2 separate regions of the Homo sapiens genome follow, and region 2 is linked to region 1. The links come from fine-mapping of genetic effects on gene expression. A gene starts in region 1. The other region holds a variant in brackets. All regions are shown on one strand. Distances are between the middles of the regions. Region 1 holds the start of TMEM266 (transmembrane protein 266). Region 2 holds the start of LOC101929439 (a long non-coding RNA gene).

What was found.
Region 2: its variant is fine-mapped to the expression of TMEM266 in visceral fat (GTEx, PIP 0.94).

Annotation. Positions count from the first base shown.
Region 1 is chr15:76,052,972-76,068,288 of GRCh38, reverse strand. It overlaps TMEM266 (transmembrane protein 266), which reads right to left and starts at 8,304. Exons shown (of 11, transcript NM_152335.5): 1 at 8,273-8,304. It also overlaps a transcript of NRG4 not described here. RefSeq lists a silencer at 9,262-9,311 and enhancers at 10,795-10,844, 11,035-11,084, 11,145-11,194.
Region 2 is chr15:76,172,128-76,187,444 of GRCh38, reverse strand. It overlaps TMEM266 (transmembrane protein 266), which reads right to left. Exons shown (of 11, transcript NM_152335.5): 8 at 11,771-11,886. It overlaps LOC101929439 (a long non-coding RNA gene), which reads left to right and starts at 5,959. Exons shown (of 3, transcript NR_120360.1): 1 at 5,959-6,493; 2 at 8,661-8,899; 3 at 10,975-12,554. RefSeq lists enhancers at 5,559-5,608, 5,819-5,868. The variant G/A (reference allele first, on the strand shown) is at 9,031.

The sequences.
Region 1 (15,317 bases):
AACACTTTCCCATCCCTAGGGCAATTAACAAGCCAAAGGTAATCTCTGGCCAAATCAGGTCTCTCCCAAAGTTGGGGCCTTAAAGTTTTTCAGAAAGCATGTATTTTAACTGTCACTTTTAGCCTTTGGGTATGGCATGCAATTTCTGCTACTGCATTTAGAAAGAACATAATGATGACTGTCAATTGGAGGTGGGTTTTAAATCACAAGTCTCCAGCTAAATTTTCTAAGAGCCATGAAGATTACTGAGCAATTGTGGCCTTTCAGCAAAGCACAAAGTACCTTGTCAGTCCTACTTTATGCAGCACCTGCGAGTGCTGTCTTAGAGTGGCTTTATGGTCAGAAGCAGGCTCTGGTGGGGAGAGCTGGCCCTTTGCAGGTCAAATATAATTCCCTCCAGTCATAATCAAATATTTCAGATTTCTCCAGAAATATTAATTATTTTTGGTTTGATATACTTATTGTCAAAGGCCGACAAGTACTTTGAGCACTTAAATTACAATGCCCCCCACAAAAAAATACCCCAAGGATGATTTTAACAGTCACAGGATGTGTTATTGCATACTTTAAGCTCTTAAATACAATGCCAAAAAAAAAAAAACCCAAGAATGACTTTTTCTTTTCTTTTCTTTTCTTTTCTTTTTTTTTTTTTTTTTGAGACGCAGCCTTGCTCTGTCACCCAGGCTGGAGTGCAATGGCGCAATCTCGGCTCATTGCAACCTCCGCCTCCAGGGTTCAAGTGATTCTCCTGCCTCAGCCTCCCGAGTACAGGCATGTGCCACCACACCAGTTAATTTTTTGTATTTTTAGTAGAGACGGGGTTTCTCCATGTTGGCCAGGCTGGTCTCAAACTCCTGACCTTAGGTGATCCGCCCTCCTTGGCCTCCCAAAGTGCTGAGATTATAGGCGTGAACCACCGCACCCAGCCCCAAGGATGATTTTAACAGTCCCAGAATGTGCTGTTGCATCTAGACCCGAGGCCTTCAGGAGTAAGAAGATGGTCTGCATTTCTGTAATTTGTTTACATCTCCTTATTTATGATATAATCTACAACTGCTTATAGAGTCTAAATTTTCCTTGTCTGTGTAATTTCAAACCCAAATTTACCTTTCATGTATATTATAACCCAATCTTCATCTTCATTTGACCCAAATTATCTAAGTTCTGTATTCTTCAAACTAGAAAGATGCTGAGTTTTCTGTATTGATCCTATGGAGAACGGTTCTCAAATGGGGGTGACTTTGCACCCTAGGGGACATTTGGCAATTTCTGGAGACATTTTTGGTTGTCACCACTGGGGACGGGGGGTAATCGCGGTAGTACCGGTGGCATCTAGTGGGTAAGGGTCACGGATGCTGCTAAATATCCTACAATGCACAGGACTGCCCCTGCAACAAAGAGTCACCTGGCCCCATGTGTCAACAGTGTTGAAGTTGAGAAACTCTGCTACAGAATGTCAAGATGCAAAGCATATGGTCCTTTGTGGCTTCCAGGGTTGTGGGGTGGGAAGCTGTTATACTGGCAGCACAGCTCTGGCACTCTTCATGACCCCAGGGACACACACAGCAGATGCCGATGAAAACTTAGGCTGTCTTTGCCAGGCCAACTCACAACGCCAATAAAGGGGTTAATTTTTTTTTTTTTTTTTAAGTAGGCAGCCCTTCCTTTGATTTTCATCCAACTTCAATGCCCTCTTCACCAGGGCAGGAAGGAGAAAGCAAGCAGGACTAGAACACAGTGGCTCCAGAGCAGGCCTATAGCAAGGTCTGAAGGGTTGATAGATTTGATACTCACAGCTTTACAGCTCATTTTATTCTGAGAGTAGAGAGTATAGAAAAAACTTCTAAACACTTCTTAAAAATTCTAACAGCTTTATAGGTTGGTAGGATTTCAAGCTACTTTTTAAAAGCATTAAATTATTCCCTGTGCTCTCATTATTTTAATTATTTCTATATATCCCTCCTCGTTCCAAGAAGGTTCTGACATGGGTAACTCTCCCTGTGGTGTTGACTTAATTATCCCGTATCAAGCTTACATGAGCTCCAGGACTGATCAATACAGGTTTCAATTTAGGAGGAAAAAGGATTTTGGAAGGGCCAAGTAAAACCATAATGTTTTGGCAGTTAAAAGATATGAGTTAAATTCCCACTATGTGTAAAGTTATAGTGCTAAATGCTGAGGAAGATATTTTTTAAAAGTATAAATCACAGCTGGTGCCCTTAAGTAATTCATACTCTGTCTGAGAGAGACAGGCTCCATGCCCAAGGGAGGCTGTCTTCTGCTACAAAGCAGGCTGTGCTTGGTGGCTCCTGGGCAGGGGCACCCCTCGGCATTCTTCCCTCCTCTGGCCAGGGAAGGAGGGGCAGAATAGGAAGAGGTGAGGGTGGTTGAGTGGGGAGTGCGCGGGACAAAGCCTCAGAAGTGGACGCACACTGGGGAGGGTCTGAGATATAAACAAACTAAACGAGAGCCAGATCTTAGAGGTCCTGATGGCTAGAGGGAGGCATTTGGGTTTTATTCTAAAGTTACAGGCATGTACACAGGAAGTTATATGATAAAAAAAAATAGCATTTGTTGGGTGCTTACCCTTTACTAAGCATACTATTTAATCCTCTGCCGTAGCTACTCTTCTCCCCATTTTACCGATGAGGACACTGAGGTACGAGGGTTAAATCACTTACTCAAAGCTACTCTAGCAAGTGCTAGAGCCAGGATTCACATCACAGGCAGAGCCCACACTCTTAACCACTTCAGACTGCCTCTTGATAGAACAGGAAGGATGACAGCAGAGGAGAGACCAGATAGACACGGACACCGCTAGGAAGGAGCTGCCGACAGACAGCATTTCAAAGAGTAGAGGAAGTCAATGGGGTCAGATGTTGCTGAGCCATCATGAACGAAATCTGAGAAACAGCCATTGGATTTATATTAGGCAATCACCGGTGACCTTTAAGAGTTCTGTTTCAGTAGAGGGGTGGGGGCAGGAGCTCCTTGCAGGGTATCAAGAAGGGCAGTGATAGAGCCTTGCATAGAAACTGACAGTTAAAAGACAGGGAGAAATGGGAGAGAAATTTCCAAGCTTTTCTTTTGAGACTGTGTCCCAAAACAATGGAACTTTTTCTTTGTTGAGGAATTGCAATATATTTCACCTTGTTCTTTTGTTTTGATGGGCAAAGCTAACAAATTTTAGGAGTCATGGTTAAAGGAGAATTAGTAACTGTCATAGAAATTGTTTTTTAAAAGCCCTGCATCAAATTCAGGTAAAGTACAAAGATTTGACTATTTCAAAGGAAACTGTCATGGGCAGAAGGTTAATTGGCCTTATGCATTGTATTGGCTGGAGAAAATGGCAATTGTGTAACCAGGGTGGGATGGTGTGAGGGAATTGTAGATAAAATAACTTGCTTCAGACCTGTTTTGAGCCAAGGGAAAGAAGCTGAAGCATTGCATGCATTACGGCTTGACAGTGAAATCTAGAGAACAGCTGCCTGGACTTCCAAAAACCTGGGCTGCAAAGGGCAAAAATACTTATTAAAATTCCTTGTTTTAATGAGTTCTGGGAATAGGAGTTATCAGCCTCTGTCCTAGCTACTAAGTAGTTTCTATTACAAATCAAAAGCAGTTTTAGGGAGGCTGTGTTTTTTGAAGGGGAAATCCTCTCCTGGCGGGTAATTCAGACTGCCTAGGGCAGCAATTAAAGCCATCCGGGAGGAGGAGAGGAGGCCTTTGTGGCTGAGGAGCAGTTTCTCCCAGGCTTCTTTCCATAACCATGAACTCCCTTTAGCATCCCAGTGTAGTCCATTCTAAAGTGTTCTGCAGATGAATCAGTCCTCAAAGTGCCTATGATTTTGCTACGGCCCAAGAACTACTGCAAACAATAGATGAATGAAAGATATATGTGGAGTCCTTCCTGGGACTGCTTACACCAAAGACATCTCAGGCTGTGATGCTTCTCAGACACATGGGGTAAGTGCTTTGGCAGTGAACTCTCAGACCCTGGCTCAAACAGGGATGACACCAACAGGTATTTAATGTTTAAAAAATGCAACAGGCTAATAATGCAGGCAGTGCAAGGATTCACCTGTCTGTGTAAAAAGCCAGTAGGAATGACCGTAGGCTCCTTTTCCTTTCTAGTGACTCAGGCCACTGGGAGAGTTGATGGATGGCTGAAGGAATCCAGAGTCTCCTTTGGAAGTTCTTCAAAAACATTATGCATTCCCATTACAAGGGAACCCACACAGATCTCTTCTCCATCCCAGGCCATCTCCCCACGTACCATTTGCTGCCTCGTCACACATCCCAACCCTCAGGTGACTTTTTCCCCATCTTTACAGGTTCCTCTCTTCCCAACACCGGCTCAAGAGTAAGCCAGATCTTTCCCGATTCTTCTCTACTTTCTTGCTGTTCCCCCAAACAACACATAAAGCTTTTGCATTTTAGAGGTTTCATTGCTCACTACAGAGAACAGTAAGGACTAACAAAAACAAAAAGTGTGGGAAGCTGGAAAGATTCAAGGATACCATAGTGATTTGTTGATTCTTTTTTCACAGTACCAGAGTTGGGGGAGTGAACAAAATACACAGAACCCCTGCCCTTTGGAGCATTCATTCCATGGGGGAGATGGGCAATACACTTAACAACTAATTAATATAGTAGGCTAGGAGGTGCTACGAATAAAAGCAAGACAGGGAGGAGGAAAGGATGCTGTGGGAGTGGGGATAGTTTTAAAGGAGTGGTTGGACTATGAGCAAAGCTGAAATGAGGCGAGGGACTATGAAGATACCTGTGGGAAGAGTATTCCAGGGGAGAGAACCATTAGTGCTAAGGGCCTGGGGCAGGGGGTACAGCAAGGAGGCCAGTGTGGATGGAGCAGAATAGGATGGGAGGCCAGAGAACTATGGGGCAGAAAGTGCTTCATCTTGCAGTCAGGGTGCAAAAGGCAATGAGCCCAGAGTTTGAGCTATGCTGACTTGGGCTCAAATCTTGGCTCTGCCCCTTAGGTCATATACCTTGGGCTCCCCCACTTCTTATCATATAAACAGTTGACCACAAAGGGTGGTCACTGCAATATGAGATGTGAAACTTCCTATCACAGGACACAGCACACGACAGCCATAGTAAGAAACAGAGACTGATGAAAATCAAGTATTTCAAAGTAATCTGTGAACTTTTGTGATTCAAGACTGTCGACAACTGAATAAAAATCTCATTTTAAAGAATACTAAATTAAGAAATACTTTAAGAAAAAACACATTTCATAATGAAGTAGCTTACAAGGTCGATCAAGGAAAAACAAATATCCCAGTTTTAGTGCCTTATTCAACAATGTACTAAAATATTCATTATAATCAGTCACCACAGACATGTGAGTTTCATAGCTTGGAAAACTTTTCCCCCACTCTCCCAAAAACTCTCGTGAAGGGAATAAAAACAAATAATGCTTAAGCATTAATAGTTTCCCATATGACTTTCCCAGTTTAAATATATGTTTTAAGAGAAAAAAAAAGTAGTCCAGAAACACTTTTATATTTCCTGAATTGGCCTTTGCACGATAAAGCCTTCTCAGCTCTGCATTAAATGAAATCCTGCTTGAATGGAAGACAGCAGACTAGTCCGTTTCTCAAACTCTTCAATCATGAGATTCCCAACTGAAGAAGATAGTGATGCTCCCCACAGGAAAACTCATTTCCTCCCCAGAAATCAAGTAACACCTCTTGCTTTCTGCTTCTTGCCCAGTAACATCAGGACTCATCTTGAGTTTATCTGATCATAGACTGGAAATCCCCAAGACAGAAAGATCCTGTCTCAGCATTTCTGTAAACACCAGGGAATGTGCTCCTCCTAAACTGAGTGTTTCCCACGAGGCAAGAATACTATGTACAAACCGCTATACTGTTTCAAAAGAACAGTGTAATGAAAAAGGTAACATCATGTTGCTCTAAAACCAATCACATTGACCAAGGCAAAAACAGAGCTTATAAAATTAAAAGAGATAGTCTTATATTTCCTACTTAATATTATTCATCAATTTATAATTAAAAGCTGTTATTTGCATGGGATATACTTTCCAAATAATTCCTTCTATTCACCTATACCTTTCTCACCACTATCTCAACTATGTGACCTGAGTAGAAAAGCTATTAGCCCCACTGGGTGAATTTTCACTGATGCAACTACAGCAATTTCTAAGTCCATGAGAACTGCTAGGAATGTTTAACAAAATCCAATACCTGCATTATAATAATGCACTTTAAAAAAATGATTAAATACACATCCATAGCTGAATGCAGAGATTCCAAGAACTTTGAATGCATAATTGCTACAATCATAGAGAGACTGGATTACGAGCCACGGCTGGTACGGATGGATTCCTTCCTCCCATTAAGGCACTCACAGGCAAGTGTGATAGACAATGTTGCTCTGATGACTGGCAGTGAGACCAGAAGATAGTGTGAAGGGCAGCAAGGAGGGTAGGGTGGGATGCGATAATGGAAAATGGGAGTGATTCATTCTACTTAATGCATATACGTTTTATGGGTTTAAATCTGGAGGGAAACAACTTTTTAAACTCAACTCCTTGTGTGTGAGAATTAAATGGAAGCACATCTTGGACCCCACTTTTTATAGGTTTAGTGCCACCTCAAAAAATTCCATACTGATCCATTCTGAAACAACTGCTTTTCTTACTGGAAAGCCACAAAGTTGGTGCAGAATCTATGAAATGGAAAATTAGACCCAAGCCAACATGCTCATGCATAAGCTTGATTTTAATGAAAAGGTACACGGAGCAGCCGCACCTGGAGGAAAAGCCCCCTCAGGGCTCCCCACCTCCAGTATCCCCATGTGCTTGAGTTTGCATCCTTACCCTGTCCCTGACTGTGTGACCTTGGGCAAGTTAGTTAACCTTTCTAAGTCCTGGCTTGTTCATCTTCAACATGGACATAGCAGGTTTGCTGTGAGGACTAAATGAGCTCATACACAAATAGTTTTAGCTCAGTACCTGGTACATATGAACATTTAAGAAACATGTCCTTCTCGTGATTAGATGTGACACTCTGACCATTTTAGAAGCAATTACGGTTCAGCTATCATATCCCAACATCTTGTGATAACCATTTTCATTTTTTGCTTCTAGCTCTTACTATTCTTTTCATCACAATATTTTAGGGTGGAGGTATTTGGGGGAGGAGGTAAGCAGTTATATACATCCCATTTTCCCACTGTTGTTCAAAGCAAGGTGAAAAGCCAGGGAAATAAACACATGCACTGAAGAGAAATTCAGTCTTTAGGATATGATGTGATAGGTGTATGGAATATAAACAAATCATATAATTTCAACCTCTCACATATAGGGCATCAAATCATAGGTAGGTCTTATTTTAAAAGAAAAGCCAAGCAGCATTAAAGAGGATAGAGGGAACCCATATGGGCCTATTGCTAGCTCAGTATTGGTGACTGTGAAACAGGGATGGGTGAGCTAGATTACGGGGGTGTTTCATGGGGTCTGACTTCCAACAGGTGGCTAGCTTTAGTCATGTTCAGATGCAAAACCGTAATGAGTTTGAGTATGCAAGTCCCAGGGATTCTGTTGAAGGCCATCTTTTCTCGGCCATCAAGGGAGACAATTTTCTAGGTTTAAGCCTCCCTGGCAAGTTAGCAAGCAGGGAACTGCCTGCCCTAGCTTGCACCTGTCCCCTGAAGGGGATTCTGGCCTGACGGTGAAGACCCACCATCCCTTCCAGACAGCCCATTCTGCCGCTGGGGCACCTCCCGACAAACGGGGGAAGCCCACTAGGAAGTGGTCACGACCAACCAAGCCACAAATCCTCAGGGTGTGGGATTTCCACCTCTATACCACGTCTGAAAACCGAAAATAGGCGCCCGCTTGCCATACTGCAATGGGATTCCCCCCAGCAGCAACCCCCCCCTCCAGCTTGCATGTTTTATTAATAAATGCAAGATGGCACACGGAGGCAAAGAATGGGAGGTAAGGCATCTGCAGCTGGACCCGAACCAGGGCAGTTTGCAAAAATAAATAAGAAGCATGTGACAAGAAGCAGGTCTCCAGGCTGGAGCTGAAGCCCTGGGCTGCCCCACGCACCCTCGCCTGGCTCCCCCGGCCAGGGGGATGAAGGTCAGCGGCAAGATCCCAGCCCTTCCGAGCACGCATCCTGCAAACCTTGACCGGTCCCCCCACCCCCCGCCCCGACCACAAGACTCGGGCAGTGAGGCAGGGGAAGCTCTGGCCGCGGCCGGCTGCGAGGACACATACCTGCTGCCCGGGCTCGGGATTCGCTCGGCTCTGCAGCGGCGCCGGCCGCGGCTCGCGCTCCCGGGGCTCCCCTCTCCGCCCCCCCGCCCCCTCGCGGCCCCGCCGCTCCCTCCGCCCCTCCGCCCACCGCGCTCGGGGGCGCGCGCGAGGCCTCGCGCCGGCGGCTTGGCCGAGCCCGCGCCTGCGCCCTCGCCTCCCGCCGGCCGCGCGCGCGCGCCCCCGAGGCTGCGGAACGGCGGCGCGGCTGTCTAGGAAACCGCGGCGTCGGCTGGCAGGGGCTGGCGGCCTGAGCTGGGCAGGGGGCGGAGGCGGGGGCTCGGCTGTCTCCGGGGCTGCCACGCAGAGCGGGCTTCGTGGCGTGGGTGAGGGGGTCGCGGGGCAGGGTCGGGGCCTGAGTGCGAGCGTGTGGAGAGGCGAGGGGGCCGCGAAGGGTGGGTTTGACGGGGACGCAGGCGGGGCGCAGAAGCAACAAGTGCGGAGGCCGAGGGCGTCGCTCGGGGAAGCGGAGGACCCCCGCGGGATTTCGTACAGCTGAGAATGGGAACCTCCCGTCGCTTTGGCGCAGCGCTTTGCAGTTTCCAGAGCTCTTTCCCAGTTGCTCCGTTTCATCCGCGCGGGGCGCCCGGTGAGGGAGCGGATGGCACGCAGTGCCCGCTGCGCTTGGAGGCCACCGAGGGGAAAACACCTCTTTCTGTGTGGCCGGAGTCATAGCACGGTCAGAGTGCCTTGACTCTCAGTTGGCTGCCTGGGAGAAAAATACCTGTCAGTACATTCATTTGATGGCCTCAGCTCAGGACCCTTGTAGGACCGTGTTTCTCCTCTTTTTCCGTTTTTCGTTATCTGACTCTTAAAAAGGCTTTTTACACGTCCCCATCTCCTTTCCCCGTGAAATCCCAGTACCGCAGATACACTGTCGACCTGCTTATGTGCTGTATGTGTTATCCGTGCTTGATGCATAAAAAGTAACATTGCGCCCCTTGGAGGCAGCATCGCCCCGGTGGAGAAGCCTGTCCTAGGGCCATGATTGCCAGTTACCGGGTGGGTTAAACGGAACCACTGAGCAATCTGGATGCACCCACAGATATTCTCTGTGGTTAAAAAAAAAGTCCTCACCCATAATGGGTACTACTCTAATTAATGTTTGCAAGGGCTGCTGTGAATACGGCCATTTAAGCAGCTTCTGGATTCATAGTAGCTTATTATCGTTTGTCTTCTCCACCAATTCTTGCTAAAAATATAGCCATTTTCCTATAGGGTGTTGCGATTTTTATCTTAAAATATTTGAAAAGATGGGAAACCCTTGTTTCTAGGACACGGAGTTTCAGAATGGCTTTTGGCTCTGCAGATAGGTTTGATTTCTGATTCTTGTACCTCTTCTAAAGTGTTTTTATTTGATTAGGTCCAGTTGGCCTCCCAGGAATGTCCTTTGTCTTTTCTTCCTGCCGTAGCTTTTTTAGTATGGATAAAATGAAAATGGTAGAGTTGAAGGACTTCAAAACCACCTCTTGGAATTGCCCCACGGTCTTGGACTACCTTCCCTGGATTATACGGGAATATCTATACAGGGAGTATCTACTTTTGGCAAACTGAGAAAAAAATGTAAAATTTCTTCAGATCCTCCTTCGCCTTTCAGCATTTCCTACTCATCTCTAATCTCTAATGGTGGAATTTCAGAGGAAGAAACACTTGGAGATGATACTTGTGGAAGCTACCTGGGTTGCCAAAGGATTTTTCTACATTTCTAGACGGAAGAAATGTGGACTAGAATAGAGAAAGTGGAGATGGGTTAAGAAAAATTAATGGAGGATGCACGGGAGGGGAGCTATAGTTTTCTGACAGTCAGTGACAGCATTTTAACTAGGTACACTTTCTTTAGAAAAAGCTTTGGCATAGCTTGCCCAGATTGTTATCCACTCCATTTTCCACCTTAGTAGAACTCTACTTAAGATTTGATTGAAACTATTGAGAAGCATCCAGTTATAACGCTAATTAACTCTCAGAGTACGACAAGTATTTTGAAACTTGCTGAGAGAAATTTGAAGACCACTTCAAATTTCTACCAGGAATCTTTGTATCCTAATAAAATTTTTTTGAATTCGGGTTCATGCGACTTCAAGGGAACATTTTTTTCTACAATGGCTATTTATAGTATAATAGCCATTGTAGAAAATATTTATATTTATAAATATTTATATTATGTATTTATAATATAATAGCCATTGTATTGAAAATTACATGCTAATAAAGTTTACGTGTGTCTTAAGTGTTCTGGGTTTTGTCCTTTTCTGAGTAATCCGAGTTAATGGAAATTGTAGGTGCAACCATTTCATGTTGTAGTGTGAAGTCAAAAATCCCAAAACATGTATAATTTGTCAACTCTATGCTGCCCCCTGGTGATGTCTTACTTCACAGCACCTCCCCAAACTAAAATCTCCCTTCGATAAATTTTTTAGGGTATTGAAAACTTAAGTGTGGACGAGATGCCATTCTGCATTCTTCAAACTGGGCCTTCTCTTGTTTTCAAATACCCTGAGGCCTAACACCGGAGGAGGATTAGCCCTTGAGGCTGATGAGGCTAGAGGAACTGTGAAGATCTGCCACAGATCTCACTTTCACTTGGAGCATTATTCTTGAACTTAACTGGCTTATAAGACTCACTTGGGAACACTTGCTTAAAATCAGATTCTGTGAGTCATAAATTCAGCTGATTAGAAAAAAAAATCGGATTCTGGAGCCTCCTTTCAAACACCTTGAAATCTAATATCAGGGGGTTGACTTGTGATTTTTTTTTTAACTGCCCCAGGTGATTCTTATTGACAGGAGAGGGTGGGGGAATCCTAGAGCTATAAATAGTACAGGTGCTGCTTCAGTACACTGCAGGTGACTAATGAGAGGAATTTTGTGAGTAAAGGAGCTTAGTAGCAACAGGAAAGTATAAGAGCTGTAAAGCAGAAGTGGAACTGTGGGTTTAAGCTTGGTATATCACTTCCTTGCCAGACATAACTGTTCGTTTCTAACGTGGCTGTAGTTGGCATTCTCTCTCATACCAAGATACCTTTTGAGGTAAGTCAGATTTTCTTTTAGTTAAAAAGACTGCCTTTTCAAGAGTACCAGGATCACATAAATGGAAAATTTGTACATGTATGTAGCTGCAAGATTATGGGAGGATAGATTAGAGATGATGTTGATCCTGTGAATGTCTGAAAAAGATTGGTAGCAGAGTTAAAGCTTTTGTTCTCTTGAGATAGTTGCTTGTGAAAATAGAACAAGTGAATCTGATGCCATGTGATTTGTGAAAATTTGAATAATGCCCAAAGTCCTTAAATTGTTAATGTGATATAAATGTTAATATTTTGAAAGCTCTTCTAAATGTTATAATATAACCTCACTTATTTGGAATGTACAGGTAGAAAGCCAATCTGAGTTGGTAAAAGCCTGAAAAATGGAATATATGTGACTTTGTGTGGTATTTATTTTAAATTTGAGTACATACAATATCTAAGTCGTTTTTTATTTTTTAATTTAATTTTATTTTTATTTATTTATTTATTTATTTTTGAGACGGAGTTTCGCTCTTGTTGTCCAGGCTGGAGTGCAATGGCGCAATCTCGGCTGACTGCAATCTCCGCCTCCCAGGTTCAAGCAATTCTCCTGCCTCAGCCTCCCTGAGTAGCTGGGATTACAGGCATGCGCCAGCACACCCAGCTAATTTTGTATTTTTTTTTTCTTTAAGTAGAGATGGGGTTTCTCCATGTTGGTCAGGCTGGTCTCGAACTCCTGACCTGAGGTGATCTGCCTGCCTCGGCCTCCCAAAGGGTTGGGATTACAGGCGTGAGCCACTGCGCCCGGCCGCTAAATCGTTTTTTTTAAAAAAATCCTGTTGAGATGACTTTAGCAAATAAATATGATTAGTAACTAGCGACATTCATGTGCATGCAGTCTGTGTGGATACAATACCATGGACTCAGTAGGCTCTCAATAAAAATTAATTGTAAAGTTTTCTCCTAAGTAGGTTAAGAATACTTAATGCAGCAAGCCCATCTTCAAAGATAGTACTTAGAGCAGATTTTACCTTGAATGGCATACCAAGAGTGGGGCAATAAGAACAGTAGATCTTGGGTATGGACAATAGTAATTCTCATTATCTGTAGAGAATTTAAACTACAGTAAACCCACTAAAAGTCTGTTTTTTATTTCCAGTAATTTTTATGTACCAGTAATTCTAAACTGTGTCAATAATAAAATAGTCCTCCATGAAAAATCTCTCATGGATCTGGATTTTAAACAATTTCTGTAGTCTCTGTTAAGTTTTAGTATATGAATTTAAACTTCAAATCAGCACATTTTAATTATTTTTTTAATAAACAGTATATTCTACATGGAAATTAATTTAGAGAACTCCCACTCATACAATTGTCCTTCAACAAACATGGACCCAGCTATTGTATATATTTCCAAGTAAACTCATAAAAGTTCAGGGTAATTCAAGATTTAAGGCACAGTTCATGTTCGCAACCCTGGTGGTCCATATTCCTGCATTTAAACAGTAGATTCTTTGTAAACAATGGTAGCACAGTGATTTTAAGGATGAAGAGACAGAACTTGATTACTTAAACATTGTTCTATGTGACCACTTAGAGTTTTTGTTTATGAAATTTAAGAGTGAAACATAGTGTAAATTTTAAGGTATAATATTTTTGTTTCATGGAATTATCCTCTTGAATAATTTTTTTTGAGACAGGGCTTTGCTCTGTTGCTCAGGTTGGAGTGCAGTGGCACAATCTGGGCTCACTGTAGCCTCCGCCTCCGCCGTTCAAGCAATTCTCCTGCCTCAACCTCCCGAGTAGCTGGGACTACAGGCGCCCAGCACCACGCCTTGCTAATTTTTGTATTTTTTTCAGTAGAGTTGGGGTTTCACCATGTTGGCCAGGCTGGTCTCCAACTCCTGACTTCAAGTGATCTACCCACCTCAGCCTCCCAAAGTGCTGGGATTATAGGCATGAGCCACTGTGCCCGGCCCCCTCTTGAATAATTGAATTCAAATAATACATTTAACTTTGAATTTTTTTCTTTTTTCATTGTTAATAGTTGCTTCAAAACTAAAAAAGAAATCAAGAAAAGAGGTGTAATGTTATTTAGTACTGCAAACAAACCAGTACATTGGCATATGTGTTTTTTATTTTTTGAAAATGTTAATTTCATTACAATTTCCTTTTTTGTACTATAATACTTACTTTATTTTCTATTGGTATATAAGTGGAGTTGAATTTCCACTGTCTCTTTCCTATTGTTTCATTTCATGATTATTACTGAAAAATAATTTTATCACATAGAGGAAGAGGTAATAAAAAAATGATCCCTCTGACCTGAGGTCTGGAGTTTGAGACCAGCCTGGCCAACATGGCGAAACTCTGTCTCTACTGAAAATACAAAAATTATCTGAGCGTGGTGGTGGGCGCCTGTAATCCCAGCTACTTAGGAGGCTGAGGCCAGAGAATCGCTTGAACCGGGGAGGCGGAGGTTGCAGTGAGCCAAGATCGTGCCACTGCACTCTAGCCTGGGCAATGAGAGCGGAACTCCATCTCAAAAAACAAACAAAACAAAACAAAACAAAAATGATCCCTCTGGCTGGGTGCAGTGACTCATACCTGTAATCCTAGCACTTTGGGAGGCTGAGGCGGGCAGATCGCTTGAGCTAAGGAGTTCAAGATCAGACTGGGCAATCTGGTGAAACCCCTTCTCCACCAAAAATATTTTAAGAATTAGCCAGATGTGGTGGTGTGCACTTGTGGTCCCAGTTGCTCGGGAGGCTGAGGTGGGAGGATGGTTTGAGCCTGGGAGGCAGAGGTTGCAGTAAGCCAAGGTTGCACCACCGCACTCCAGCCTGGGTGACAGTGTGACACCCCATCTCAAAAAGAAAGAAATCCCTCTGGATGTCAGATGTTCTAAGTATATTAATGGGCCCAAATGATCACCACGTGAATGGTATTCAGTTTTTAAGTGAGTTCAGTTATGTGTTTGATATTTGGAATTTTGCATGTACTCTATGAAGAACCATTCCTTTGGCTACACAGTTCACGTGCCAAAATGGAATATCAGCGAGTACATATACATGTATTGAAAACAAAAATGATCCACTATTCCAATTGTGGTATAATTAAGCTATTTTAAAACCTAGCAAGTACAGGCCGGGTGCAGTGGCTCACGCCTGTAATCCCAGATCACTTGAGGTCAGGAGTTTGAGACCAGCCTGGCCAACATGATGAAACCCTGTCTCTACTAAAAATACAAAACTTAGCTGGGCGTCGTAGTATACGCTGGTAGTCCCAGCTACTCGGGAGGCTGAGACAGGAGAATTGCTTGAACCAGGAGGCGGAGGTTGCAGTGAGCCAAGATTGTGCCACTGTGCTCCAGGTGCCACTGCTCCTGAGACAGAGCAAGACTCTGTCTCAAAAAATAAAAAATAAGTAAAAATAAAACCTAGCAAGTACATATCCATGTAGTTATTGATAGAATCCTAGTAATTGCTGACATTTATGGAATACTTGCCATATGTCAGACACCATTCTATGTGCTTTATATATACTAATTTATTTTTTTTGTAGCAGTCCCATTGGGGAGTTATAGTTATTAATGTCATTTTACAGATGAAGAAACTGAGGCACAGAGGGATTAAGTAGCCTGCTCAAGATCACACAGCTAGTAAGGAACCAAGATTCAAACTTGGGCAGTGTGATTCAGAGACTTTAAATTCAACGCTGGTGCCTCACTGCCTCACGTATGTACACAAAGTTGTGCCTAAATAAGTTTGAGGAATCATTAAGTAGTAGGAAAAACATTCTGGATTCCAGAGTTCCAGCTCCAGTTCATTCTGTAACTATGAGTAAGGGAAATAAATCAAAGTCTCTAATTTAGAGAGACTTGTGCTTACTTCATCTAGAAGTTCTCTAAGTTTTTTTCTAACTCTAAATTTTTATGATTCTACGATTATTTTCACATAAAGGAGAAAATTTGTCTTTTTACTTTCTAACAGACTAAAAGTGAA
Region 2 (15,317 bases), 120 kb before region 1:
TGCTGATCTGAACCTCCCATGGGCACACCCAGCCCACTTTCTCCAAGGCCACTCATCGAGGCCTGCAGGCCAGCTAATGGCTTCCTGGCTGCTCTGAAGGGATGCATTATTGATGGCTTGTAATTGATATGGAGCTGCCCAAGAATGTCCCGCTGGAATTCAGGCCAAGACAGCCAGAGGTCAGGGCTTGCCCAGCCCCAGGCCCACATGTGCAGACGTAGGCACATACACAGAAGCAAGTTTCAGCTAAAGAGATGAACTCCAAGTGTGTGGCAGTTCTCACATTCATTCATTCATTCAGTAGGAAGTCAAGTAAACCATGGTGGGGCAATGTTAACCTTCTGTTACAGGTTTTGGAATGAAAATGCCTTTCTCAGCTTGCAGGTAAAACCTGGATAGCCCCAACAAGGCGGGCTGTCAGCTGCATTGCAGGGAACAAGTCGCCTCCGAGAGCCAAGCACAGCCCTGGGCTGGTACTTATGGCAGGGGAGGCATAGTGTGTACAAGGGCCAGAGGGCCAGAAGGTAAGGGGCTGGGGAGCTCAGCTGGGGCCCCACCAGGCAGAGCCTGGAGCCACAGTAAGATGTTTTAAAGAACAACAAGAAACCACTGGAATCCTCCAAACAGAAGGGTGGAGTGGTGGGAGTGGTGGTACACAGTGATCCAGATGGGCATTTTGAAAGGACCATGCTGACCGCAGAATGGAGAACAGATTGGATGGGGCCAGAGTGGATATAGGAATGCCAGGTGGGAGGCTACTGCAGCAGTCCATGCCAGAGACAAGTAGGTAGGGACGAAGGTGGAGAGAGAGATAAGAGGAGGGATAAGAGAATTACCTCGGAGGTGCGATATCAGCACATGGCATGGACTGGAATGGCGGTGAGGGAGAGGACAACCTGCTTAGGGGACAGATTTTGGCAAGCTTCACACCCAGAGGGTGTGGGGTGACTGGAAGCTGTCCATCTTGCCCTGAGAAGGAATGACTGACTCCTCAGAGGGGAAGCACACATGGGCAAAATGGCTGTTGGCCCAGTCACAGGCTGGGACAGCCCAGGGGAACTTCAGGAGGTGCTAGCGGGACCCTCAGAGCTGGGCTCCTGGCTCCTCCTATGCTTATCATGGCCACATGTGCCTCCACAGTGTTTCCCAGGGGCCCTAGGACATTGGGGCCTCATGAGTCAGATGGGGAACTGAGGCCCGGAGGTGGGAAGGAGCCTCCTGTGCTGGGAGGGAGGATGGGGGAAAGGCCAGGACCACATGGTGCTTCAGAAGCAAAGCAGGGGCCACAGCCCACGCCCCTGGCTTCTAGCCCCCAAGACCTTGAGCCAGGGAACTTGCAGCCTTATAAGCAAGATGGAAGTGACTCAGCCCAACAGAATCCAGGGCAGCTTGATGGTAGCAGGGGCCAGGAGAACAGAAAGTCACCAGAGGGAAAAGCAGGGGCTGGAGGCTGAGCTCTTGGCCCATCACCCCTCCCTTGCCCTGACTTTGGGTGAGCCTCTTTTCTTCCCCGGGCCTTGGTTTCACTGTGTGTCCAATAAGGCAAATGGACTCACTGAATTCCAAGTCAATGACGAGCTCTGTACCAGCTCCAGGACCCCACCTGGAGGGAATGAAGTGTAAGTGCAGTTAAGGCTTGCTGCTGTCTTGAGGGCCATCCTCTACTCCCTGCCAAAATGCCCCGTTCCCAGAGAACCATCTCTTCAGAGAAGGATAACAGAATCCACAGCCTCTAAAATGCATCATCAATGATGTGTAGCACACCATGAGAATCATTCATCATGCAAGTAAGCAGAAAAACATGTGGTTATCAAGCCATAAAACAGTTAATAGAAGCTGACCTGGGTAAATATTTGAGTGAACAAACAAGGACTTCAAAATAACTACAATTAATATGTGAACAAAAATAGGGGAGAAAGACAGACAAAATGAGCGTAGTGTTTCAGCAGAGAGTTAGACTCTATAAAAAGAATCAAATCAAACTTTTAGAATCTTGATATACAGTATCTGAAATTGAGTAGTTGGTTGGATGGGTTTAACAGGAGATTGGACGTAGTAGGGTTGTTGAAGACAGGTCTATAGAAAAACATCAAAACTTACAGCCATTAAAAAAGGAGACAGGGAGAGAGAGAGAGAATGAATAGTGGAGCAGAGTAGGATCTAAGAGAAACGTGAGACATAATCAAATGGCCTCAGGTACAACTGGAGCTCCAAGAGGAGACGAATGAGACAGGTGCAATGAATAAAGAAACCATGGCCAAGAACTTCCCAAATCTAATAAAAAACATCAATCCACAAATTTAAGAAACTCCTAAGCAGAATAAATACCAAAAAACCCCACAGAAATCCACACAGAAGCACCTTGCAGTCAAACTGCTGAAAACAGGAAGAAACACAACAGGACGGGGCTCCCCAGGGCTCACACGGGCCTGTGCCTTAGGAAAAGAAGGTGCACAGTGGCTCCGATGAAGCAAATCTTCCATTGGCAAATGGGCCCGGTGGGAAAAAAAGACCATCCCTAGGCTTGGGAAGAATTAAAGTGCAGTCACAGCCCCATTTAGTGCACATCATTAGCTAAGTATTTCTAATCAGATAACCTGCCCAGATCATCTGGGATCCACAGGGAAGCCCGCAGTATGCATTACTGGAGTGAGTCAGGCCCCTTCCATCGGGGCCGGGCTTTTAATGCAAGCCCAGGAGGGGTCAGACCCACCGGGGCGGCAGGACGGGCACACCCAGCGCTTCTCCGCCTTTAATGGTCCGGTTGTGGAGTCCAATTGACACGGGCCTTGTCCTGATCAATGCACACTTTGGCCAGAAGCTCGATGGTATCTAATGCAATAGCAGTAATTCTGCTCCATCCTATTAGTGCTGTCTGCACAGGCTGCCCTGCCTTCAAACCCATCTGCTGTTGGGATAGCATCCAATGTTTATTTCCATTAGTTTCACCGTTGTTGGTAACAATAAAAATCAGGAGACAGTTGCAAACTAATGATTTAGGAGCAGAGTAAAGCTGAGATCGACCTTGGCCCCTTTCCATCCACTGTGAAGATGACTGGTAGTTGGCCATAAATTTAAATTATGGCAAAAGGATAACATAAGTTATTCCTCTGATGGCTGATTTTATCAGCTAAATAGGCTTGTCATTAAAGCTATCGGCTGTTTTACAAATCACTTCCCATCTTAAAAAAAATTTCACTTCCCACAGTGGAGATCCTGAATAATCCAGGTAACAAAGGCTATTGTGCTGAGCTGGGAACTTGTGGCCTCTGTAGGAAAAGAAGGAGCTCTCTGGAATGAGCCAGCCTCAAGCCCCGTCCCTGGAGCCAGCATGGAACCACGGCTTTATTCCTGCTATTCCTGCCCTTTGGCCCCTTTTCTGAGCTGCTAGCCCAGCCTCAAAGGCGAGTGACCTACGCAGAGCCGTTGGCATTCTCTCAGGGGTCCAGAAAACCAGGGGACAATGGGGTCCAGCGAGAGGCCTGGATGGGGAGATGGGCCCTGGCTCCCAATCAGACCACCCACCACCTCCCACGTCTGCTCCGGTTCCTCCACGTGAAAGACAGCGAAGGGGATGGAGGGGGGGCGTGACAGCTTCCTCTCCTCACATCTTCCTCCATCAGAAATGCCTACAGCTTGCAGGGTCAAGATTATCATCTTGTTTCTTCAGGAAAACAGGCCAGGGAGGCATGGCATTCCCCCAGGAAGGACTTTGATAAGTGTGGCTGTGCCGCCTGCTGTGGTGGAACCGGGGAAAGGGTAGGGAATGTTGTGAGCCCATTGGCCTTGTTTTATGGGTTGGGTGACTGTGCAGGCGACTGTTTTCTTCTTGGGCACAAAGACCACTTCTGACAGCATCTGGTGCCCCTAGTTGGTACTGTGCAACTGACTCTTGCCAATAAAACGGGGGCAGAGCAATATCACCATTTTCAGTCCTGGCCAATAAAAACCTGCTGTGCCCAATTCCCCAGCCTCACTTTCCTATCCACTGACTGGAGAAGACTCCGAGGACTTGGAGGAAGAAGGATCGGCCGGGCTTGGTGGCTCCCACCTGTAATCCCTGCACTTTGGGAGGCCGAGGTGGGTGGATCACTTGAGGTCAGGAGTTCGAGACCAGCCTGGCCAACATGGTGAAACCCCATCTCTACTAAAAATACAAAAATTAGCCAGGGGTGGTGACACATGCCTGTAATCCCAGCTACTCGGGAGGTTGAGGCAGGAGAATCGCTTGAACCCAGGAGGCAGAGGTTGCAGTGAGCCGAGATCATGTCACTGCACTCCAGCCTGGGCCACAGAGCGAGACTCCATCTCAAAAAAAAAAAAAAAAAAAAAAAAAAAAAAGCCACAAAATGGAAGCAGCCTGGAGGCCTGAGTGACTTGTGTGGAACAGAGGGTCCCTCCACCCTGCCCCATTGCAACCTGCATTGGAGTATGATGAGAGTGACAAATGTACTCCTCCTGTGTCAGGACTCAGATTTCTGGATTTGCTGGATGCAACAACTGGTGTTACTCACCCTAACTATCAGTGACTCAGGCAGATGCCTCTTTCTGGCGCAGGGAAATGGACACTGAAGCCCTGGGTTTCTTTCCTAGTCCCTCCATGAAAAACTACAGGATCTGGCCAAAGAATAGCCTCTCTGAGCCTCAGTCTTTCCATGTGAAGGGATTAATAGTACCCAGCCTGCCAACTTTCACCAGCAAAGGAAAAATGAGCTAAAACATGACAGTGCATTTGTGAATGAGCAACCATCATATAGATACATTTAGTAGTTTTTTTTGTTTTGTTTTGTTTTGTTTTTTTGTGACTGAGTCTCGCTCTGTCACCCAGGCTGGAGTGCAGTGGCATGATCTCGGCTCACTTTAAGCTCTGCCTCCCAGGTTCATGCCATTCTCCTGCCTCAGCCTCCTGAGTAGCTGGGACCACAGGCACCCGCCACCACACCGGGCTAATTTTTTATATATATTTTTTTTTAGTAGAGACGGGGTTTCACCGTGTTAGCCAGGATGGTCTCGACCTCCTGACCTCGTGATCTGCCCGCCTCGGCCTCCCAAAGTGCTAGGATTACAGGTGTGAGCCACCGCACCCGACCTCTCTCTTTTTTTTAACCCTTACTGAAAGCCTCCAGCAGGCCAGATTTAATTTGATGCATATGGCATCCACACGATGTAGGCCTTGTTACCTCCAATTTCCCCAATGAGAAGCTGAGGCTCAGGGGTTAAAGGGAAGATGACTGGTCACTGGTGGGGCTGAGGTTTGAATCTGGCTTGCTGGCTCCCCGAATAAGAGGATTCTTTCCACTCCTCCAAGCTCCCCGACAAGGGACTCACCTTTCCCAAGGTCTAAGGATGTCCTAAGGGGCTCACAGGTCCCACTGGTCTCCTTGGAGGCTGGACCTTGAGTCACCCCGGATTGAGCCTCATATCCCTCAGTATTTTGCCAATGATCTCAGGGTGAATGGTGCTGAGGAAGCAGAACGTCAGAGAAGAGAAACTAACTTCCACAGTGGGCCAGGTCAGATCATACTATTTTGTACCAAAAGCTGTTACCAGGCTTAAACATGAAAGAGCGGGTGTAACGGAGACTTCAGAATGTGTTTCGGAACTAGAGCGAGATCCCACGCATGGAGGTACATAAAACCTCAGAGGTGGTTTCGTGAGATGAGTCAGAAGAGTATATCGTTGCATTGATTTAACTGCTGCATCTAAAATGGCTTTGGTTTCTGAAGCAGCCAAGACAGAGAGAGAGACAAGGCATCCACACCGTCTCTCTGAAGGGCAGCCTCTAGCATCGTGACTTTGGACTCCATCTGTGTACCAGCGAGCCTAACTCGTCATGAAATTCTGGCCAAGATCCACCCCTCACCAAAAACAAACAAACAAACAAAAAGAATGGAAAAGAACTTCCACCTAAGGAATTGAGGAATTGCTGAATTCAGGGGTCAGAAGCCATGTGCTTCTATCACAGCAGCGGGGAGTCTGGAAGGGACTGCAGAAGGCATGGCCAGGGCTTTGGAATGGTATGACTGACCAGCAGAGAGACCTCCTCCCCTCCCGGGATCCTCTAGGCACCCCTCCCCAAGTAGGAATCTGTTAAGCATGAGGTGTGTCCACAACCAGAAGAGATCATAGGAATGAGGGAAGCAGTGAAGCCTGTTTCCCTGTCAAAGCCAGAGGGCCAGTGTGATCCAGGAGGGAAGGCACTGGAATGAGCAACAAGAGACCTGTTTTCGTCCTGGCCTCATAACTGCTGTGCCACGTTGGGCCCACCTCTCCCTTTCTCTGAGCCTCAGATGCCCCATCTGCCAAATCCTGGATTGGGCCAGCTGCCCTCCCCAGGGACCTTTCATCTGTTATATAAGGTGATTCTGGAGCACCTTGCATGTGGGCCTGTGACAAGAAATGAACTGCCATGTAGCACAGAAGGTGAAATGAATCAGATATTCATGCAAGAAACTGGCCAACAGGCTCACCTGAGAGTCTCCACAGGGTCACGGTAAGAAGCAATGTAATCTTTCTTAAAAAGTTAAGATGGGCTGGGTGCGGTGGCTCATGCCTGTAATCACAGCACTTTGGGAGGGTGAGGCGGGTGGATCACCTGAGGTCAGGAGTTTGAGACCAGCCTGGTCAACATGGTGAAACCCCGTCTCTACTAAAAATACAAAAATTAGCTGGGCATGGTGGCAGGTGCCTGTAATCCCAGCTACCCGGGAAGCTGAGGCAGGAGAATCTCTTGAACCCAGGAGGTGGAGGTTGCAGTGAGCCAAGATGGCGCCACTACACTCCAGCCTGGGTGACAGAGTGAGACTCTGTTCCAAAAAAAAAAAAAAAAAAAAAAAAGCTTAAGATGAAGAAACAGAGAGTAACTGTGCAGTGGAGACACCTGACCCACGCTGCCCCAGCCGGGTGATCCAGGCCGCATCACAGTGAGAAGTCACGTGGCCAGTGTGTCCTCTTGATGTGAGACAATAAGAATGGCACTTTCCTTCTGCAGTCTTCCTCCCAAAACCCACAACCCCAGGCTTACCCTGGGAAAAACATCAGACGAATCCCAACAGAGGGGCATCCTGTAAAACAAAAACACCCGACCAGTGCTCCCCAAAACCCTTCAGGTCATCAGAAACAAAGTCTGAGAAATTGCCACAGCCAGGAGGAGCCTAAGCCTACTGAATGCGACGTGGAGCAAACAGAGGACATAACAGATTAAATACTAAGAAAACCTGAGTACCGTATCAATGTGGGTTTGTTCATTGTAACAAATGATACTAGTGTATGATGTTAATGATGGGCAGCCAGGCACAAGGGATACAGGGAACTCTGCACCTGCTTCACTATTTTTTGGTCAATATAAAACTGTTCTAAAAAATAAAGTTTATTTTTTTAAAAAGAGCTGGGTGAAGTTGTGGCAAATAGTTGAAATAGTTGTACAAACACACCCCAGCAAGAGAGCAAGGGAGTGAAAAGCGTTTTGTTTTGTTTTGTTTTGTTTTGTTTTAGAGACAGTCTTGCTCTGTGGCCCAGGCTGGAGTGCAGTGGTGTCATTACAGCTCACTGCAGCCTCAAACTTCTGGCCTCAAGCAGTCCTCCTGCCTCAGCCTTCCAGAGCACTGGGATTACAGGTGTGAGCCATCGCGCCAGGCCAGGTGTTGTATTTAAACTGGGACCCTAACACATTTCATTGGTAAATGTCAATTTTTCAGGCAGCATATGTGAATTCAGTTTGGAAATGTCTTCATTATACTCTGAGAATTCCAGCAAGGAGACAGCAAGAGTTTGTCACAAGGAATACTAGACTGTCCTGGAACGGGGTTGGGGGCTGCCATTGAGACAGCTGAGGGGAGCCAGGTCTGTGCCTGCAGTATAAAATACCCCATGCATAATCTGATCAATGTTTTTGCTGAGTGCTAAGTGCCATGAGTAGGAAAAAGGAGGCTCAACGTGATGGGCTGGAAAAGAACAGTGTTCACAGTTAGGACACCTGGTTCTATGCCCCCCTGGACTAGCTGTGTGCCCCCAAGGCGAGCTGCCACTGCTCAGTTTTCTTATTTGTAAAATGGGTGTGTGGGGCAGGTGTGGTGGGGCTGGTGGACTTCGGGGTCCACACCCATTAGTTGCTACCCATCATGTGTCAGGCTTTAGGCTACGATCTCATCACCATCCTTCGAGGATTCTATTACTACACCCATTTTTCAGATTAGGAAAACCAAGGCCCATAGATGTCCCATTAATGCCCAAAGCCACAAGGCCAGTAAGTGTTCTAAAGAGAGACACACCTGGGTTCGAAGCCAGCTCAAAGTCTATTTAGAACCAAGTCTATTCTCAACCATTCCATGGGCTGCTGTCTCCAAGGGTCTAGCCATCTCTGACATTCCAGGGCCCACAGTCTCATTTCCTCCAGGGTATCTGTTACCCAGTCAAGTCTCAAACCAGGTCTGAAAATACAGCTGCAAGTGAGGCATCTGTCTGCTTCGCTCTGTGGAGTGGGCACCACAGACTCCAGGAGAGCTGCCCTCCTGGTCCCTCTGGCCAGGCAGCCCCCACCCTCCCCGGTGGCCCCACTGGGAGTCCAGCCTGTCTGGCCCTTTCTGCTGTCTTAACTAAGATGACAGGCTTCAGGTGTTTTTTAAATTAAAATGGTTCGTTTCTGTTCATCTCTTTTCCAGATGTCGCTACCTAGAGGGAATCTGTCTTTATTTATTGGCTCTTTCCTGTGCAGAATGCAAGGGAGTCTCCCTCCGGCTGAGACCCCCGGGAAGGAGGCCACATGTGGAGGTGACTTGAACCAGGACGGCAGGAACCTGGGGTCCCCGGGGGGCTCCGGACAGAGGTCATGGTGGAAACCCTGGGAGGTGGGGTTGCCGTTAGGATTTTCTCCTGGCCACGTGGCGCATGTGTGGCTGAGGTGAGGTGTGCGGCAGGGTCAGCGCGTTCCCTGCTGGGCTGGGAGGCTGCGAATTTATGAGGGGCGGATGCAGCCCTGTGTCCGTGTCTTTCACGTTGCCAACTGCAGTGAAGTAGAGCATTTGTTTTCCT[G/A]TTCAACAGCAGAATGAGAACTGCCTGATCGGCTTCCAGTCGCTTTCTGGATGACACCCTGCACTTTACTTTCCCCACTTCCCTGCAGCCCCCTCTGCCTAAAGCCCAGCTTCTCTCACCTTCTTCTCCAGCCTCTGTCCCCAGTCTTCCTGTCTCCACCCTGCCCTCTCCATCCAGCCTCCAACGGCAGCCAGAAGGCTCCATCAACAACTCACATCTGAGCAGATCCCCCAGTCCTGCTTTTAATCCTCCAGGCTTCCTCTGTCCCAGCAGGATAAAGCCCAAACTCTCTGGTCAGCCACAGAGCCCCTTCCCAAGCCTGTCCCCAATCCTACTGCCTCCCTCTGCTCACCCTCTAAATGGCCCCGAACCCCGGGGGCACTGCACCCACTCGCACACCCCACACTGTTCCCTCTGCCTGGCAGCCTTCTCCCCAGGGCTCTGCTCCACATCAGCTCCTCTGGAAAGCCTTCCCCATCCTGGCCTGCAGAGCCCGGGACGTGCCCATGTGATACAGGCATTGCACCAGATTTCCACTGCCTATTTATGGGCTGCCAAACCCCCTGAGTCACCCAGAGCCCCGTGAGGACGAGGGTCACACCCTGTCCTAGGCGGCATCCACATGCCCGGCACAAGCCCAGCACAGAGCAGCTCTGGACGGTGCTGGCTAACCACGCGATATGGCAAGAGAATGAATGAAGCTGATGCCAGCTCCTCAGGAAGGGAATGCTTCTCTTCCTAGTCTAGGATTCCATAGCCTGCCCTGCTCTCGGGACACCTTGGACAACGTGCCCCTGAGGGCCATGTCCCCTGATGACCCCTCTTGTCACGCATAGGCATTCTGTGCGAAACAAAAGGTCATAGTGTTCCCAAAGCAGATAAAAAGATTGGTTTCCTGACAGACATTCCGAGGGGATGATTCTGAAGACACTGTGTGCGTGTTCCTGTGGGGACATTTCCCAGGATCACTTTGTTGTGACATTCCACAGACGTGTCCCCCACCCCAAAACTGTGAGAGGCTGGGGTTGGTCGAGGAGCCAACAGGTACAGTGAATATGCATTTACCAAGACCCGCAACAGAATACACATTTACCAAGACCCACGACATACACTGAACACACATTGACCAAGACCTACAACGCGCGGAGTGCTGGCTGGGGCCGGATGTGAGTTGGACTAAGGCTTGCCTTCAGGGGGCATCTATTTCAGCGGGAAGAGCTGCCCCAGGCATAAAGGAGCACTGACCATGGCAGTGAGTGCCCAGTGCCCTGTGAATGTGGACAAGTGAGGGCTGCTGCAGGGCTGGGGGAGGAGGTGCAGAGGCTACTGGCGGGGGGAACATGCTCTGTAGAGAGGCTAGGACTTGAATTAGACAGACAGAGCTTGCAAGGGGCGGGGATTCAGGCAAGGGGCACAGCGCAACCAAAACCCAAGAGGTGGCATGGCACAGGGCTTGTCAAAATGACAGGTGACTCCACTTGGCACAGTCGGGGTGTTTATGCACCAGACACATGAGAGAGGAGGTCGATAGGACGGGCAGACACATAGCAGGCCTGTACGCCACATGAGACCTCAACCCTGAGGCCACCTTGGAGACTGCCTGGGCACCCAGCAATGGGGGAGGAATAGGGAGCCCAGGGGTGCCCATCCTCACCGCACTGCAAGCCAGAAGGGCTCAGTGCCCACATCAATATGCGGCCACGGGCATTCCTCCACTTTCACTGGCAGGACATGGGCTGGAAGACAGCCCGTGAAGAACTCGCCTGGCCCTGGGCACAGAGAGCCACAGGCTTAGCGTCTCTGGCTTGCGCAGCTGGGGGCAGTGGCCCTGTCCTCTCCCCAGAATCCATCGGGCAGAATGGGAATGACCATGCATGTCATTTGGACCATCCCCCACATTCCCACCACCTTGCCAGTCCCCTCAGTAGCATTCCCACCTTACAGCCTGGGACCGGACCCTTCCCTGCACACCGAGCTGCACTTCTACAGAGCTCTCAGCCTTGCTGCGGGATCCAGCAGCCACCCCCTCCTGAGTACCCCAATCCCCCTCCTCTGAACTCCTCTGTCCCACTCACATGGGAGCAGCCACCTCATCTTACAGAGGAAGGAACTGAGGGCAGAGGGGTGGCCCAACTTGGCCGGAGTCCGGCGGGGTGGGAGCAGCAGGGCTAGGCCTTGAATGCAGGTCTCTGGATTCCCGACAGGGTGCCCCTGGCCCAGCTGCCAGTCCCCCTTGCCTCTGCTGAGCCCATCCTTGCAGGGCCCACCACCTGCCTCTCTGAGTCTGCATCACATCTCCTGGAGGGTAGAGAGCACCGCTAGCATCTTTCTGGGGCCCTGGGCGTCCCGCGTGGCAATGGGCATACCATGGTGCCCAGCAACCCTCAGCAGACAGAATTAGCGACTGGCTTTAGAGACCGACCATGTCTCCGAGAAGACTCTGATGAACTGAGGGGGCGACTTGGCAGACTCAGGTTGGGGAGCTGAAGAGTCACCGTGCTACAGTGGAAAGAACCCTGGCCTGGGAGTCAGGGTTGAGTCCATGCCTGGCTGGGCTATACATCAGTGAACCTGGAGATGTGTCCCCTTCTCTGGGCTTCAGGTTCCCCATGAGTCCAACAAGGGGCTGGAGGAACTCCCTGACCTCTGGTGCCCCTGCAGCTCTAGCAACCCATGGCTTTAGGCACTACCAGTGTCCCCAGCAAGACCACGGACAGAGCCGAAAGTGGCAGTGCATTACCCCTTGCTCCTGACAGATCTGCGTCAGCCTCTCCAGCTGCTCGTCTTGGATGACCTTGGCCTTCTCGTACTGCTGGATAACCATCTCCATCTCCAGCTTCACTGGCAGGACGTAGGCTGGAAGACAGAGACAGCCCTGTAAAGAATTCAGCAGTGGCAGGGCTTGGACTAGGGAAGGGCGGGCCCAGCATTCAGGCAGCAGCAGGTTCGAGGCCCTGGGCCATTTCTGTGGATCTAGAAGGGGAAATGTCCAGGTACCCGAGAGCATCCAGAAAGTACAGAGGGCCACAGCCTTCGCTCATGGTGTCCAGGGTAGCTGTTTTCCTGTTTTCCATAGTGCTAGAACCCATACTTTTGGGCTGTGTGCACAGCTGCCTGGAATAAAGACTATTTTCCAGCCTCCTTTGCAGCTATGGGTGGCCACAAGACCACCTTCTGGACCATAGGATGCTAGTGGAGGTGGCATGCAGCAGCTGCAGGAGCCTTCTTCACAAAGGAGCTGGGGCCAGTGAGGATGGGGCGGCCCTGGAGCCTGCACACACTGGCGGAAAGGAAAACGGGGCAACCACTTAGGGAAACGGTTTGTCCGTTTTTCAGAGTGTTAAACAGAGAGTGACCATATGACCCAGAAACTCCATTCCTAGGTACCTTAGGGGAAGGAAAACATGTGTCTACACAAAACTCGCACATGAGCATTCATAACAGCATTATTCCTAACAGTCAAAAAGTAGACATAACCCAAATGTTCATCAGCCGATGAATGCGTGAATAAACTGTGGTCTAGCCATGCAGTGGAGTACTACTTGGCAATGAAAAGGGGTGCAGTCCCGCCACCAGCCACAACACAGATGAGCCTCAAACACATGATGCTAAATCAGAGTGGCCAGCAGAGAAAAACCACGTCACATGATTCCATTTATATGAAATGTAATGGAACAGAACAGGCAACTCTATAGAGATGGAAAGCAGCTTAGTGCTTGCCTAGGGCTGAGGTGGACATGGGAAGTGACTCTGATGAGTGTAGGCTTTCTCTTTGGAGTCATGAAAACACTCCAGACTTAGATTTTTTGGTGATGGCTGCAGAACTCTGAATATACTAGAAACCACTGAATTGTGAACTTTTATTTTGAGATGGAATCTTGCTGTCACCCAGGCTGGAGTGCAGTGGGCGATCTCAGCTCATTGCAACCTCCGTCTCCCAAGTTCAAGTGATTCTCCAGCCTCAGCCTCCCGAGCAGCTGGGATTACAGGCACCCGCCACCACGCCTGGCTAATTTTTGTATTTTTAGTAGAGATGGGATTTCACCACGTTGGCCAGGCTGGTCTCAAACTCCTGACCTCTAGTGATCCACCCGCCTCAGCCTCCCAAAGTGCTGGAATTACAGGCATGAGCTACCATGCCTGGCTGAATTGTGGACTTTAAATGGGTGGATTTTACGGCATGTGAATTATATTTGGATGAAGATGTTTAAAATGAGAAGGCAGTGGGCCTTCCTTTTGCCTCTTTATCCTCTTCCCTTCCTCCTTCTTGGCTAGGATGAGGATGTGATAGTTGGCACGGAAGCAGCCATCTTGGACCATGAGGTGGCTTTGAAAAGTAGGCTAAGTGCAGCAGAGCAACAAAACAGAAAAACAGAAGGAGCCTGGGCTCTTGACTACAGGGAGTAAGTGACTGTAGTCAAGGCCATATCTGTCTTGGACCACCTTCCCACAGACCTCTTTTTTTTTTTTTTATTTTTTTTTGAGACCGAGTCTCACCCTGTCACCCAGGCTGGAGTGCAGTGACATGATCTCAGCTCACTGCAACCCCTACCTCCTGGGTTCAAGCGATTCTCATGCCTCAGCCTCCCCAGTAGCTAGGATTACAGGCGTGCATCACCACACTCAGCTAATTTTTATATTTTTAGTAGAGACGGGGTTTCACAGGGTTGACCAGGCTGGCCTCAAACTCCTGCCCTCAGGTGATCTGCCTGCCTCAGCCTCCCAAAATGCTGGGATTACAGGCATGAGCCACCATGCCTGGCCTGCAGACTTTCACGTGAATGAAATACGCTTCTGTGTTAAGACACTGTTATTCTGAGTCTCTGTTACTCAGATGATCCTATTTATAACTGATATAGTGAGACCCAGAAGAGAAAGCCTGGCCTCTGAGGTTGAGGGCCCTGTGCTCCACCAGCCAGCAGTAGTCCCACGGACACCTCCCTTGGTGGTTCTGTGGGTTCAGAGTAGCTCTGGGCTCCTGGAAGTCTCAGTGTCCACTCCTGACTTTAACACAGCCTTTCTCCTCACACTGTTCCCGCACCCCTCGAAACCCAGCCCTTCCTGACTCTTCAGAAGCCTCGGTCACATGCCTCTCTTGCCCCTGATTTCTAGAACCCTCCACATTTCCTCTCTCCAAGTCTCCTTTCCACCCACAGCCTCTGCACCTCCAGATGTTTCCTGGCTGTTGCAGGAATCAGCAGAGAAGAGACATTGGGACTTTTCTGCTTGAGGACCGGCCACGTGTCCCTGAGACCCATCTCCAGGTCCAGAGGCCGCCCCAAGATGCCGCTGCCTCCTCAAATCTCTGCTGAAGCCAGTTCACACCCAGGGTTAATTTGCAAGAGTAGCAAATTAACGCCCATCTGTTCACCAGCACGTCTCTCTCCTGAGGCTCCCGGTAGCTCCGTGATGCCTGATGTGTCAGGAAAAGGGCGGGACAGCTGGGAAGAGCGTCACAAAGGGGGCTCTCAAAATCCATTAGTGTGAGGGTGTGCGGCTGTTCACAGCTGGAAGAAAGACCCAGAAGGCGCTGATCCTGCCCCGAGCGGGGGTGGATGTTCTCATGGACAGAGCCAAGAACAGGGCCCTGAGCAGACTGCAGGGAGTGAGCAGCCGAAAGAGCGCTGGTGGGTGTCAGGGGTCTTAGGCTCCACTTCTGGTTCTGAGCCTGATTCACTATGTGACCCTCATCCTTCTTGGCCTCAGTTTCCCCATCTGTCAAATGAGGGGAGTGAACCAGGTGATCTCCCAGAGCCTTCCCAGCCTTCCGAAGGCTTCTGAAGTGAGACCCAAACACATTCCAGTTTGATGAAGATTCCCTACTGGGGGATCCCTGACAAGATGGCAGCATCTTCATCAGGACCAAATCCCACAGTGTTCGCAGGGTGGAACATAGGGTGAGGCCCAGGGAGAGGGAGCCCACCCTGAGGGTGACAGCTTCTGCCTTGCACCTGCGTGGCAAATGCTGGCGGAATATTCTCATGGCTTCAATTTTTATCATCTGCAATCAAAATTCAGGGCTGGAAAAGACCATAGCATCTATCCCAGTGGTTTTAAAACCGTGCTCCAGAAGGCCTGGCAGTTTCTTAGAGGTGCCTCAGAGGGCAAGGGAGAAGGCAAGTAGGTGGGCTGTGAGGCCCCTCCACTCCAAGTCAACCAAAGCAGCTCCACTTGCAATCTCTTTTACAGACTGGGTACGATTTTGCTGAAGAAAGGGCTTTGCTGTCAACCAAACCAAACCAAACCAACAAAACATCCTGGGAACCACTGTCTATACAACCTCCTGG